2 linked regions of the Homo sapiens genome follow. The protein of the gene in region 2 purifies or fractionates together with the protein of the main gene of each other region. This does not show direct contact. Each region holds a gene or a part of one and is shown on either strand. Other genes may lie near its edges.

The links. The genes of interacting proteins can lie anywhere in the genome.
Region 1: the proteins of EEF1A2 (region 2) and VARS1 purify together in Homo sapiens (co-immunoprecipitation; 4 studies listed by BioGRID and IntAct, with this or other methods). This does not show direct contact.

What each region holds. Positions count from the first base shown.
Region 1 is NC_000006.12:31,785,365-31,792,752, forward strand, and holds part of VARS1 (valine--tRNA ligase), read right to left. Parts: intron 7,153-7,388; coding exon 7,028-7,152; intron 6,941-7,027; coding exon of another isoform or gene 6,938-6,940; coding exon 6,853-6,937; intron 6,608-6,852; coding exon 6,507-6,607; intron 6,374-6,506; coding exon 6,246-6,373; intron 370-6,245; coding exon 205-369; intron 1-204. UniProt on the Homo sapiens protein: Catalyzes the attachment of valine to tRNA(Val).
Region 2 is NC_000020.11:63,488,661-63,496,436, forward strand, and holds part of EEF1A2 (elongation factor 1-alpha 2), read right to left. Parts: intron 7,376-7,776; coding exon 7,196-7,375; intron 6,442-7,195; coding exon 6,145-6,441; intron 4,628-6,144; coding exon 4,477-4,627; intron 2,076-4,476; coding exon 1,819-2,075; intron 493-1,818; coding exon 258-492; intron 1-257. UniProt on the Homo sapiens protein: Translation elongation factor that catalyzes the GTP-dependent binding of aminoacyl-tRNA (aa-tRNA) to the A-site of ribosomes during the elongation phase of protein synthesis.

The DNA of each region.
Region 1 (7,388 bases), on a different chromosome or scaffold from region 2:
GGCTAGAGGGAGACATCAGGTGGCTGACTGGGCAGTGTGGAGATCACCCATCCCCCTGAAATTTACCTGGGCCCTAGAGCCAACTGACTCTGCCTCTGTGGGAGGGTCTGACCCTGTGGCCAAGGGGTTACAGGTGACAGAGGTCTTCTGGATAGGGGACAGGGAGGCAGGGCTGCGATGCCCACAGGGATGCTGCATACTCACTCCTCCTTCCACTTCCAGACTTCCTGTAGAAAGGCCTCGCGGCCCAGCTGGTGCCGGCTCAGTCCCTGCTCACGCCATAGCTTCTTCTCCACCACCACCTGGGTGGCAATACCTGCATGGTCACAGCCAGGGTTCCACAGGGTGGTCTCCCCACGCATGCGGTGCCTGTTAGGGGGCATGGAGGACCAGAGGGTGAGCCAGGCCAGTGGGGCCTGGCACCAAAGAAAGCAGAGGCTTCAGGCAAGGAGTCAGTGGACTAAATAAAGAAGCAGGGAGGCCGGACGCGGTGGCTCACGCCTGTAATCCCAGAACTTTGGGAGGCTGAGGTGGGTGGATCACCTCAGGTGGGGGAGTTCGAGATGAGCCTGGCCAACATGGTAAAACCCCGTCTCTACTAAAAATACAAAATTAGCTGGGCATGGTGGCATGCGCCTGTAATCCCAGCACTTTGGGAAGCCGAGGTGGGTGGATCACCTGAGGTGGGGACTTCAAGATAAGCCTGGCCAATATGGTAAAACCCTGTCTGTATTAAAAATACAAAATTAGCTGGGCGTGGTGGCATGTGCCTGTAATCCCAGCTACTTGGAAGGCTGAGGCAGGAGAATTGCTTGAACCCGGGAAGCAGAGGTTGCAGCAAGCTGGGATCATGCCATTGCACTCCAGCCTGGGTGACAGAGTGAGACTCCGTCTCCAAAAAACAAACAAAAAAAAAAAGAAAGAAGCAGGGGTGGAGCTGGAACCCTTGTGATTCTAAAGCTAGTCAAGGAGAAAAGATTTGAAGGAAGAGCCAAGGCAATATGGAAAAAGAACAAAGACAGGCATGCGTGGTGGCTCACACCTGTAACCCCAGGACTTTGGGAGGCCAAGGCGAGTGGATCACTTGAGGACAGGAGTTCGAGACCAGCCTGACCAACATGGCAAGACCCTGTCTCTACCAAAAATATAAAAATTAGCCAGGATGGTGGTGCATACCTGTAATCCCAGCTACTTGGGAGGCTGAAGCACGAGAATCGCTTGAAGCTGGGAGGGGGAGGTTGCAGTGAGTTGAAATTGTGCCACTGCACTCCAGCCCGGATGACAGAGTGAGACTCTGTCTCAAAAAAAAAAAAAAAAAAAAAAAAAAAGAACGAAGAGGAGGCTCCTGCCAAACAGGATAGCAAAAGTTCTAATTGTTAAAATAAGTTACTAAACAGGAACAAAATAGTACCTGGAAACAGATACAAGCAAATTTAGTGTTTGTGAAAGTTGGCACTTCCTATCAGTAAAATAAGGATAAACTATTCAAAATGTTTGAAACAACTAGCTAATTATTTGGAAAAAATCTCCCCCTTACCAATAGTCACAAAAAGAAACTTTAGATAGATTAAAGAATTCAAGCCAGGCACAGTGGCTCAAGCCTATAACCCCAACACTTTGGGAGGCCAAGGTGAGAGGACTGCTTGAGCCCAGGAGTTGCAGACTAGCCTGGGCAACATAGTGAGACCTAGTCTCTGCAAAAAAAAAAAAAAAAAAGCCAGGCATGGTGGCGTGCACCTTTGTTCCCAGCTACTTGGGTGGCTGAGGTTGAGGCTGCACCAAGCTATGATTGTGCTGTGATCATGCCGATGCACTCCAATCTGGCCAACACAGTGAGAGAGACTCTGTCTCAAAAATAAATAAATAAACAAATAAATAAAAATAAAAAGTTGATATAACTCTATTCCATTAAAGTAATGGGAGTGTCTCACATTTTATTTAAACCACGTTCACTGGAAAAAAAATGTGGCTACCTTAAGAGTTTTATAAGAAGTATGTGGCCAGGCACAGTGGCTCACACCTGTAATCCCAGCACTTTGGGAGGCCGAGGCAGGCGGCTTACTTCAGGTTAGGAGTTCAAGACCAGCTTGGCCAACATGGCAAAACTCTGTCTACTAAAAATGCAAAAGAATTAGCTGGGCGTGGTGGTGCGTGCCTGTAGTCCCAGCTACTCAGGAGACTGAGACACAAGAATCGCTTGAACCCAAGTGGTTGAGGTTGCAGTGAGACGAGATCGCGTCACTGCACTCCAGCCTGGGCGACAGAGCGAGACTCTGTCTCAATTAAAAAAAAAAAAGTAGTCATTCTGTTTTCATGTAAACAAACTTGGAGGCCAGGTATGGTGGTTCATGCCTGTAGTCCCAGCACTTTGGGAGACTGAGGCAGGAGGATTGCTTGAGCCCAGAAGTTCAAGACCAGCCTGGGCAACATAGCGAGACCCTCTCTTGATTTTATTAAAAAATTGAAAAACAGGGCCGGGCGTGGTGGCTCACGCCTATAATCCCAGCACTTTGGGACGCCGAGGTACGCGAATCACGAGGTCAGGAGATCGAGACCATCTTGGCTAACACGGTGAAACCCCGTCTCTACTAAAAATACAAAAAAAATTAGCCAGGCGTGGTGGTGGGCTCCTATAGTCCCAGCTACTCAGGAGGCTGAGGCAGGAGAATGGTGTGAACCTGGGAGGAGGAGCTTGCAGTGAGCAGAGACTGCGCCACTGCACTCCAGCCTGGGTGACAGAGCAAGACCCCATTTCCAAAGAAAAAAAAAAAATTGAAAAATTGAAAAAACAAAAACGCAAACACAAACGCAAACAACTTGGCCATTGTATGTTATGTGTATTTAACAGAACTGTTGGCTGGACGAAGTGGCTCATGCCTGTCATCCTAGCACTTTGGGAGACCGAAGCGGGAGGATCACAAGGTCAGGAGCTCGAAACAAGCCTGACCAACATGGTGAAACCCCGTCTCTACTAAAAATACAAAAATTAGCCAGGTGTGGTGGCATGCGCCTGTAATCCCAGCTACTCAGAAGGCTGAGGCAGGAGAATCGCTTGAGCTCAGGAGGCAGAGGTTGCAGTAAGCGCGCATCACTGCACTCCAGCCTGGGAAACCGAGAGAGACTCTGTCTCAAAAAAACAAAAAAAACAAAAAAAAAAACAGGCCAGGCGCGGTGGGTCACGCCTGTAATCCCAGCACTTTGGGAGGCCGAGGTGAGCAGATCATGAGGTCAAGAGATCGAGACCATCCTGGCCGACAGGGTGAAACCCTGTCTCTACTAAAAAAAATACAAAAAATTAGCCAGGCGTGGTGGCGGGCGCCTGTAGTCCCAGCTACTCAGGAGGCTGAGGCAGGAGTATGCTGTGAACCTGGGAAGCAGAGCTTGCAGTGAGCCAAGATTGCGCCACCGCACTCCAGCCTGGGCGACAGAGAGAGACTCTGTCTCAAAATAATAATAATAATAATAAAAATAAAAAAATAAAACATATAACTGTTTTCCTAGCTCTCAGTTACTTGCAAAATGCACAATCAAACATTATATTCCCAGTGCTCAGAGCAGAGGTGGCACATAGTTGGGCCCAGTAAATATTTTTTGACCACATTAATTTAGTACATAAGACACCAGAAAAAATTCTCAAAATTTAAATATAATAAACCCTGGTTTCCAAAAATGGTAAAGTTATTTTAAAATACTTTTTAAAAAGATTTGTCACCTAGAATATTACTTTGTATTTATCACTAATTAAAATATTAACAGTGAAAACAAATAGTAACAGAAAACAGGAGAAACATTTACAATTAACAGGAAAACTACCACACAATAATACAACAAAAACATTTACAATATTTAACAAAAAAATTGATACCCAGAACAGGTAAAGAATTCTCAAAAAAAAAATTAAAAAGAAAAAGAACGAAGAATCAATAGAAAAACGGGGAAAAGATAGATACAGACAATTCACATATGGGTAAACCTGACTGGCCAAAAAACATGAAAATAGGCACAACTTCAATAGCAATCAGAAAGGTACAAAGTAAAACAACAGAGGTATTTTTTTGCCCATCAGATTGGCAAAACTAATTAGGCAACCCTAATGCTCAGGCTTAGCAAGGGTGGGGAAATGAACACTCTCACAGCAATTCCTGGAGGTATCAATCAGCAAAGCCATTCTGCAGGGCAACTTGGCAGCTTCCGTTTGTACTTAATATAGGTGTGCCCCTGCCGACCTAGCAGTTTCACTTCTTGATAGCTACACCAGCGAAACCCTTCCACACATGCTTCAGCAAGCATATAGAGCAGGGGTATCCAATCTTTTGGCTTCCCTGGGCCACATGGAAGAATTGTCTTGGGCCACAGATAAAATACACTAACACTGGCTGGGAGCAGTGGCTCACGCCTGTAATCCCAGCACTTTGGGAGTCCGAGGCGGGCGGATCACGAGGTCAGGAGATCGAGACCATCCTGGCTAACATGGTGAAACCCCGTCTCTACTAAAAATACAAAAAAAAAATTAGCCGGGCGTGGTGGTGGGCACCTGTAGTCCTAGCTACTTGGGAGGCTGAGGCAGGAGAATGGCGTTAACGTGGGAGGCGGAGTTTGGAGCTTGCAGTGAGCCGAGACTGTGCCACTGCACTCCAGCCTGGGTGACAGTGCAAGACCCGTCTCAAAAAATAAATAAATAAATAAATAATAAAAATAAATTTAAAAAAATACACTAACACTAACGATAGCTGATGAGCTAAAAAAAAAAAATCGCAAAAAAATTCTTAAATGTTTAAACAAAGTTTACAAATTTGTGTTAGGCTGCATTCAAAGCCGTCCTGGGCCGCATGTGGCCCACAGGCTGCAGGTTGGACAAACTTGATATACAGGGATGTGCATTAGAGTAAGGTTTTCAACAGAAAAAAAACAAAAAACAAAAAACAGAATGAATCATTAATTAAAAAGTGACTCCAGGCCGGGAGCAGTGGCTCACGCCTGTAATCCCAGCACTTTGGGAGGCCGAGGCAGGCAGATCACCTGAGGTCAGGAGTTTGAGACCAGCCTGGCCAACATGGTGAAACCCCATCTCTACTAAAAATACAAAAATTAGCCAGGCGCGGTGGCAGGTGCCTGTAATGCCAGCTACTTGGGAGGCTGAGGCAAGAGAATCGCTTGAACCTAGGAGGTGGAGGTTGCGGTGAGCCGAGATCATGCCACTGTACTCCAGCCTGAGCAAAAAGAGTGAAACTCTGTCTCAAAAAAAAAAAAAAAAAAAAAAAAAAAAAGAATGACTTCACTATGGTACAGCCACACTATGAGATATTATGGAACAATTAAAAAGAAGGAAGTCAGTATGTGTGGTATGTGTGTAAGGACAAGGAAAGATCTCCAAGAGAAAGTATTAAGTGTAAGAAGAAAGCTAGATCATAACAAGTGTAATATGAACCCTTTATGTTAAAAAATAGAAAAGACTCACCCAAAAGGAGAACTATAAATTTCTATGGGTACGTGTATATGTAAGTAAATAGGAAAGATCTGGGAAGATACACATCAAAGTGATAACAATGGCTAAATCTTAGGAGGAAGTAGGTGTGGAGGGGGATGGTCAAGGAGATTTGAAACTTTAAATTTCTTACAAGAATATATTCATATATTTTGGTCAGTTGTGGTGGCGCATTCCTGTAATCCCAGCTACTTGGGAGGCTGAGGCAGGAGAATCACTTGAACCCAGGAGGCAGCGGTTGCCATGAGCCGAGATGGCGTCACTGCACTCCGGCCTGGGCAACAGAACAAGACTCTGTCCCCCCAAAAAAAAATATATATATTCATATGTTCCTAATTAAATTCAAAATAATGTTATTGTTACTAGAAAAAGAAGGGAGAGACTGGGTGTGGTGCCTCACACCTATAATCCCAGCACTCTGGGAGTCTGAGACAGGAGAATCACTTGAGCCAGGAGTTGGAGACCAGACTGAGCAACAAAGTGAAAACTCATCTTTACAAAAAATTAAATTAAATTAAATTAAAATTAAATAAAGAAAGAAGGGATAGAAGAGAGTCTGCAAGTGGCGGTGTTGCATGGGAGTACTGGACTAGGAGAGGAAGCTAAATGATCAGATTGGAATGACAGAGAGAAGTGTAGCACCACTGGGGGCAGAAGTGAGCACCAACCCAGAAGGAGAGAGGCTCGGGGGGCTGTCAGGGAAAAGGAGAGAGCCAGACTAGGCAGAGGGAACCAGAGGAAGGTGCAGATAGAAGCTCACCATCGAGTCAGGGAGTCCTGGATGGCGTTGGTGAGTGCATGGCCCAGGTGCAGGGAGCCTGTCACATTGGGGGGTGGGATGCACATCATGAAGACACCTCGGGGATTTGCTGCTGACACATTAGGACGCTGATGGTGGAGAAGGATGGCACATGTTTAAGGCCTCAGGTCACCTCTCCCAGCCCCTCCCAGGCAACACATCCTTCAGTCCTGCCCTTCCCCACCCCACCCACTCTGGGCCTGGGCAGCAGTGCCTACTCACCCCATACTCTGGCTTGAAGAAGCCCTGCTGCTCCCACCAAGGGTACCAGGCAGCCTCCACATACCGAGGGCTGTAGGAGTCGGGCATGGGGCCACTGACATCTGGGGGAGAGGAAGGGAGGGCTCAGTGCCGTGGCTGGGAGCACTCTGGGAAGGAGACGTGCTGGCAGAGAGGGATCGGGATCTCCGTCACTCACATCATAGGACAGGCATTTGAGGGGCCTAGAGGCAGGGCAGGGGGTCTGCAATTCCTCACCAAACAAAGTGGTGAGAGCAAGAATAGAGCAAGATAGGGTGAAAACTTAGAAGGGGCTGCTGAGGGGTGAGCCCCTTCCCACTCCTAGTACCTTTCTTTTCCCCGGGTGGGGTTGGGAGGTCATAGGTAATGACCCCAGGATCCCGTTTCTCCCTCTTCTCTGGTTTTGGTTTCTTCTGCTTGGGAGGGAGAAGACATAGGCCCAGGCATCAGCCAACCCATCACCGCACACATCAACTTTCCTTCCAGCTCCACCCTCGCCTCACCTCCCCTGGAGGTGGCTGCTGCTGTTGGATCTTCTGCTTCTGTTGGAATTTCTCTAGCTTCTCCCGTTTCTTTGCCTCTTTCTTGAGCTGAGCAGCTGTCTTTGGGAGGGCAGGAGCCTCGGGGCCTAGAGAGAGGTGCAGAAATTCAGACTCAGCCAGCTGGGGACCCTCTTGGACGGCCATACTAGGTTTCAGATGGGGTATTTTAGATGCCCGAGGTCTTGCCCATGCTGACCTCCCCCCTCTCCCTCCTCTCCCGCAGGACCCTGCCCCAGTGATTCTGCCATTTCTAGGAAAAAAAGAAAGTGAGTTGCATGGAAGGCCCCAGGGAAGCCCCTATCCTCCAACTCCTCGCCCTTCC
Region 2 (7,776 bases):
GCGGGCCTTCCTCACTCGCGGGGCCTCCCTCACTTTCGGGGCCTCGTCTGCACACAGGGCCCACCCCAGCTCGTCTGGGCAGGGTCACCTGCACTCAGTGACACGGAGGCCGTGGCTCTCCTGCCATGCTCTGGGCCAAGCTCCGCAGGAAAGGGGGCCCACTGCTGTCCCCAGCGCCCCATCCCCGCAGTCCTCTGCCCTCAGCCTGGATCAGCCACAGCCTGGGGGCTGCACCTCCCCGGACCACCCCGGCTCACCGAGAGGCGGGTACTGGGAGAAGCTCTCCACACACATGGGCTTTCCCGGCACCATCTCCACGATGGCCGCGTCTCCAGACTTCAGGGACTTGGGGTTGTCCTCCAGCTTCTTGCCAGAGCGCCGGTCAATCTTCTCCTTCAGCTCCGCAAACTTGCAGGCGATGTGGGCTGTGTGGCAGTCGATGACCGGGGAGTAGCCGGCGCTAATCTGCCCCGGGTGGTTCAGGATGATGACCTGCGAGCGGAGCCACAGGCGGCCATCAGGCACATCGGCGGTGGGCACCGGGAGGGCGCCAGAGCGGGGCTGGGAGGCCCAGTCACCGGCGCCCCTGCACGGGCTCCTGGGCCCGGAGTGCTGACTGGAGGGGGCTCAGGCTCTGAGGACCCAGCCCCCAGACCTGAACCTCAACATCCTCATTAAGCAAAAGATAAACAACTGAGATTCATTGTTTCGAAGGGGCAGGGGCAGCACTTACACGGCCAACCCCAGCTGGAACTAAGGCGGGGGGGTGACAAAACTGGACCTCAATTCCTGTGTTTCAGTTGTATCTCAATAAAGCCACTTTTAAAAATCATATGAAGAGGCCAGGCACGGTGGCTCACACCTGTCATCCCAGTACTTTGGGAGGCTGACGCACGTGGATCACTTGAGGTCAGGAGTTCGAGACCGGCCTGGCCAACATGGTGAAACCCCGTATCTACTAATAATACAAAAATTAGCCAGGCGTGGTGGCACATGCCTGTAATCTTACCTACTTGGGAGGCTGAGGCAGGAGAATCACTTGAACCCGGGAGGCGGAGGTTGCAGTGAGCCGAGATCGCACCACTGCACTCCAGCCTGGGCAACAGAGCGAGACTCCGTCTCAAAAAAAAAATAAATAAATCATATGAAGAGGCCAGCAAAGAGGGGCAATGAAGACTGTAGAGAATAAAAGTATGACAGAGATGTCTCAGACAGTAAGTTAACAAAAGCGTTTTTCTAGGACGAATGTAGGACCTCAAAGGCTGGGCATCCCAGCAGTGCAGCGTGGAAGACAGACCCGCGATTGCACACAGGCTGGGAGCCACAGGGCCTGCACCCCTCCCAGAACTGATTGATCCCCTCGTTGAGTGCTCGGTGGCCCCCTCGGTGGTATGCGGGTCCCTTTTCTTTTTTTTTTTTTCTTTTGAGACGAAGTCTCGCTCTGTCACGCAGGCTGGAGTGCAGTGGCGCAATCTCGGCTCACTGCAACCTCCGCCTCCCAGGTTCAAGCGATTCTCCTGCCTCAGCTTCCTGATAGCTGGGACTACAGGCACGTGCCACCACGCCTGGCTAATTTTTGTATTTTTAGTAGAGACGGGGTTTCACCATGTTGACCAGGATGGACTTGATCTCTTGACCTCGTGATCTGCCCGCCTCGGCCTCTCAAAGTGCTGGGATTACAGGCGTGAACCACTGCGCCCAGCCTGAGGGTCTGGTTTTCTCCCCACGCCAGGCCACCTGCCGACAGCAGCCTCACCCAGGACAGTCCTGCTGCTGTCCAGCAGGCGCCAGCCCCCTGGACCCAGCGCAGCCCCCCACCTGGGAGGTGAACTGAGCAGCCTCCTGCGGCGGGTCAGACTTGCTGTCCCCACACACGTTGCCCCGCCGGATGTCCTTCACCGACACGTTCTTCACATTGAAGCCGACGTTGTCGCCGGGCAGAGCTTCGCTCAGAGCCTCGTGGTGCATCTCCACTGACTTCACCTCAGTGGTGATGTTCACTGGCGCAAAGGTCACCACCATGCCCGGCCGCAGGATGCCGGTCTCCACCCGGCCCACGGGCACCGTGCCAATGCCTGCAGAGGGGAGGGGGTGTGAGGGGAAGGTGGGGCCCGAGGGGATGCTGGGGCAGGATATTCGGGGACAGAGCCTGGAAACCAACAAAGCCTGGGACTGGATCCCCCCGACAGGCCTGGGGGTTGGGGCCACATGGGCGGAGTGCAGGGGAAGGGAGGCCAGGGACAAGGGCAGACACAGAGATTCCAAGGGAAGTGGGGGCTCTCCCACCCAGCTGGGGAAATAAGAGGCTGAGCAGCAGAGCTCCCAGGAACCCACGGAAAAGCCACAGGGACAGAGAAGCGGGAGGATGGGCAGAGAGGGGCTGTCTGAACCTGGGGTCCCATCCTTGCCCCCGGAGAGCACTTTCCCTCAAAGGAGGCACTATGGGACCCCTCCTTTGTCTGAGGACTCCTCCCTGTGAGTGTGGGCGGGGCGACTGACTGCTTCTGCCTGGGGCCTGGTGGCCCTGCTCCCTGCTCCCTGCAGGCCCTGCTCCCTGCTCCCTGCAGGCTCTCTGGGCCCCACTTGGATGCTGCAGGTCTCTATCACTAAAGGGGCCTCTCAGCCAGATGCAGCACAGGCACAGCGGCACATGAGCGTCCCTGGCATTTCTCATGGATCTACTTAAACCAATTGTGCAGCTGCCACATGGGGGTCTTGTCCCCCCCCAGGCTACTGGGTCTCCACCCTCACCTCCCAGGGCTGTGAGGGAGGCCTGTTGTAGCCTCCAGCCAACTTCACTGAGGCCAGTGGCTGTGCTCTGTGCTGGGGTGAGCATGATGCCCCCACAGTGCACACAGAGATGCCTGCAACATCTTTGGCTGCAGCCCACTGGCTGGGGGTCTCCTATCAGTGCCCTTCTCTAGGGTCTCAGATTTGTTTATGGTTTCTCTTCTTGGTGGGATGGATGGATGGATGGACGGATGGATGGGGAGGTGGGTGGATGGATGGATGGATGTATGAATGGGGTGGTAGATGGATGGGGAGGTGGATGGACAGAAGGATGGGTGGGGAGATGGATGAGTAGGGAGATGGATGGATGGATTGGTGGATGGATGGATGGATGGATGGATGAGGAGGTAGATGAGTGGATGGACAGAAGGATGGATGGGTAGGAAGGTGGGTGGATGAATGGATGGATGGGGAGGTGGATGGATAGATGGATGGATGGATGGATGGATGGATGGATGGATGGGGGGATAGATGGATGGATGGATGGATGGACGGACGGATGGGGAGGTGGATGGATGGATGGATGGATGGATGGATGGATGGATGGATGGATGAGGAGATGAACGGATGGATGAGATGGATGGATGGATGATGGAGGGAAGGATGGCTGGGTGGGGAGATGGATGGATAGAGAGGTGGATGGGTGGATGGGGAGATGGATGGATGGATGGATGGATGGGGAAGTGGATGGATGGGGAGGTGGATGGATGGATGTATGGGTGGGTAGGTGGGTGGATAGATGGATGGATGGATGGATGGATAAATGGATGGATGGAAGGATGGATGGATAGGTAGGTGGGTGGATGGATGGATGGATGGATGTACAGAAGGATGGATGGGTGGGTAGGTGGGTGAGTGGATGAATGGATGGATGGATAGATAGAAGGATGGATGGGTGGGTCAATAGATGGATGGATAGAGAGAAGGATGGATGGGTGGGTAGATGGATGGATGGATGGATGGATGGATAGAGAGAAGGATGGATGGTTGAGACAATGGATGGATGGATGGATGGATGGAGAGATGGATGGATGGATGGATGGACAGAAGGATGGATGGGTGGGGAGGTGGATGGATGGATGGAAGGATGGATGGATGGATAGAGAGAAGGATGGATGGGTGGGACAATGGATGGATGGATGCATGGATGGATGGATGGAGGGATAGAGAGAAGGATGGATGGGTGGGACAATCAATGGATGGATGGATGGATGGATGGATAGAGAGAAGGATGGATGGGTGGGGAGATGGATGGATGGATGGAGAGGTGGATGGATGGATGGATGGATGGATTGATGGACAGAAGGATGGATGGGTGGGGAGGTGGATAGATGGAGAGATGGAGGGATGGTTCGATAGAGAGAAGGATGGATGGGACAATGGATGGATGGATGGATGGAGTGAAGGATGGATGGGTGGGGAGATGGATGGATCGATGGATGGATGGATGGATAGATAGATGGATGGAGAGGTGGATAGATGGATGGGTGGATGGATGGACAGAGGATGGATGGGTGGGGAGGTGGGTGGATGGATGGATGGATGTGGGATGGACTGTCCCACAGAAAGTGTGTGGTAAGGGGAGAGATTGGAGACAGCCCAGTCTTGAGATGCCTTGTAGGGGCCCCTGGTCTAGGGCAGGCAGAGCTGGCCAGGCAGGAGCTCCAGCACAGCGCCCTTGCTCACCGCCAATCTTGTACACGTCCTGCAGCGGCAGGCGCAGGGGCTTGTCCGTGGGGCGCGTGGGGGGCAGGATGGTGTCCAGGGCCTCCAGCAGGGACACGCCGCTTGCGTTGCCCTCCTTACGCTCCACCTTCCAGCCCTTGAACCACGGCATCTGGACCAAAGGGAGAAAATCAATCCGTTAAGAGACATTGGTGGCCTCCCCACCCTCAGGCCTCCCCAGGGTGCTTCCAGGAGTACTGCTGTTCAGGCTAAACTTGCCTCGTGCCCTTTGAGATGAGGAATTTCCCCACCCTGCTCCTCCCCAGCCCATAGCCCCAGCATCACAGGGACTCTGGGAAGGAGATCCCTCTTAAAAGGAGGAGGACAAAGAGGGAAAGCACCCTTCCCAGCCCAGGCTGCTCAGGAGTTGCTGACACTGTGAACAAATCCCCAGTCCAGCCCCAAGTCCCCGAAACCCCGGGCCCCTGACCATCAGCTCCAGGCAGGGCAGATGACTTGACTAGGAGGATGCTGAGTCTGGCCAAGGGCCAGGCCAGGGACAGAGCTGGAGGAGCCTCGCCCCACCCTAGCTTCTGGACACCGTGCTGCCTCCGAGCTTGGCCCAGCCTTGTCCGGAGCTTCTCCTAGTGTGGCCCCCACTCCCATCCCATGAAGCCTCCCTCTGGGCCACCTGCCACAAACAGGGAGCAGGGGAGGGGGCCGGCAGCACAGTGCCCCAGCCCCCCAGGGCCTGTGTAAGCACGAGCCACCTAGCAGCTCAGGCCAGAGGGGAGTGCAGGGTCCCTGATGGCTGGAGGCCTCCCTGGGGAGGGGAGAGTGGCGTTCGCCACATGATACCCCATGAGGAAAACGCCATCACAGGTAAACAACACCGAGCCTCGTGAGATGGAGGCGGAGCTGGGGGAGTCCCTCCCAGTTCTGTCCCCAGACCTCAGCTCCAGGCTCAGTGCTGCTGGTCTGTCTCCCTGCTGTCTCTAGACTCCACACCTGCACCCTCACTGTGGGCAGCGACAGTGCTGGCAGAGCCTAGTGGTGGCCATTCTGGGGTCTCCTCTGGCTTGGAGAACCCTGGGAACAGTCTCAGGTTCTGCAAGTGTCTCCACGCGTCACCTCCAGCCAAGGCAGAGTCCCTGGGCTACAGACTGTTCGCACGTTGAGCTCCCAGGTGACCGGCCAAGAGCCAACCCTTGGCCATCCCAGCAAGCCCAGAAGCATGCACACTTCCCAAAGCCCAACCCTGCTCCAAGATCCCAGGGGAGGCAGCCAAGGAGGCCCCCACGGCCCAGCCCAAAGCCCCTGCACGGTGTCCAGGACCAGGACAATGGCCTGGCAGAGATGAAACCGACCGCCCCCATGGCAGGGCTCTGGAGACCAAGCACATGGGCCTGGTGCTGGAGGCCGCTGCCCCTGCTGTGTTGACATCGTAGATGGGCCCTGGCCCCGGCCAGCCGCGTGGGAGGCTGAGTGTAGGAGCAAAGCCCGGTGCTGAGGGGCATGGGGCTCCCCGCCGGGCCCTGAGCCAGTTAGGGAAACCCAGCAGGTTTCGAGGGGAACCTGCATTTCCCGGGGACAGGCCCTCGACCTCCCCGTGCCACCTGCCGGTGCCTCGCTCTGGGCCAGGGGGTCCAGCCAGCTCCCGTGGCCCGCCCCGCCCTAGCCGCCACTCACGTTGGGGGAGGGCTCCAGCATGTTGTCACCGTGCCAGCCGGAGATGGGCACAAAGGGCACGGTGGCCGGGTTGTAGCCGATCTTCTTGATGTAGGCGCTGACTTCCTTGACGATCTCGTCGTAGCGCTTCTCGCTGTAGGCCGGCTCTGTGGAGTCCATTTTGTTCACGCCCACGATGAGCTGCTTCACACCCAGCGTGTAGGCCAGCAGGGCATGCTCCCGCGTCTGCCCATTCTTGGAGATGCCCGCCTCGAACTCGCCCACGCCCGCCGCCACGATCAGCACTGCGCAGTCCGCCTGCCCGGCAGGGGACACAGTGAGCCCTGCCCCGCCTGCCTGGCAGGGGACAGAGCGAGCCTGGCCCCACCTCACTTCCAGGCCTCTCCAGGCAGCGGGCTGGGGCCTGAGCAGCCCACTGGGGCCTTGGGGAGGGAGGCATGGGGGTCCCCACTTCAAGGGCAGCATGGGGGCTCATCGCCAGGCCCTGGGTCAGGGGACCGAGGTTCAGCCCTGGCTCCACCACCAGTGGGCTGTGTGTCCCTGGACAAGTCACTCAGCCTATCTGCTCCTGTTCCTCACTTGAGGACGGATAGAAGTCACAGTTATCAAAGCAGTTTGGAGGTGGTGGCATGTGTCCTGCTGTCTGCAGGGTGCTGTGTCTGGGGTGTCCGTGCGTCTCTGTGAGTGCCCTGAAATGTCATACAGTCTACACCTGGCGGGTGGCACCTCTGCCCACTGCTCACTCTCCCCATCCTGGCCTCCAACCCCTCCATGTATGAAGGTGTGTCCACGTCCCCATCTGCCCCCATCTATCTGGGGACTCTGACACTGGCTGGATGCCTTCACAGGCACTGGTTCAGATGCCAGAGCACTGGATTCATCCTTAGGGGGGCTCTGAGCCAGACTGGGTGAGGGTGGCCCAGGTGAGGGGTCCCCTGCCCTCACAGGAAGCACAGGAGACCCTACCATCCCAGTGACCCCAGGGGCCCCCAGTGTCCCTTGAAGGGTGCAGCGGCCTCTCCCCCAGCCCCGCCTGCTGTGCCCTGCTCACCTGGGATGTACCCGTGATCATGTTCTTGATGAAGTCGCGGTGGCCGGGGGCATCGATGATGGTGATGTAGTACTTGGTGGTCTCGAACTTCCAGAGGGAGATGTCGATGGTGATGCCGCGCTCACGCTCCGCCTTCAGCTTGTCCAGCACCCAGGCATACTTGAAGGATCCCTTCCCCATCTGGAGCGGGTGAGGGTCACGGCTGAGGGCGGGACCCGGGACCCAGGAGTCCCTGGTGGTGCGAGCTGCTTGTTACAGCAGAGTGGCCGCGAGAGGCGGGAGATGGGCTCCAGCACCCCCTTGCTCTCCGTCGGGGTCCTGGGACGCCGGCCCCCTCCGTCGGGACCCCACACCCAGACCCTGCCCCCCAGGGCCGGCCTCCGCACCTGCTCCGAAATGGGCGCGGCTACGCAGGTCCACCAGCAGGTGGCGCAAGGGCCTGGGAGTCGCTCGCTCTACGAGCGAAGCCGCCAGATGGGATAAACCCCTCCCGGGCGAGGGCTCCCCTTTATCTGAAGCTGCGGACGCCCCCAGATCCCTTCCTCAACCAGAGGCCAATAATACCACCGTGTTTGGGGCTG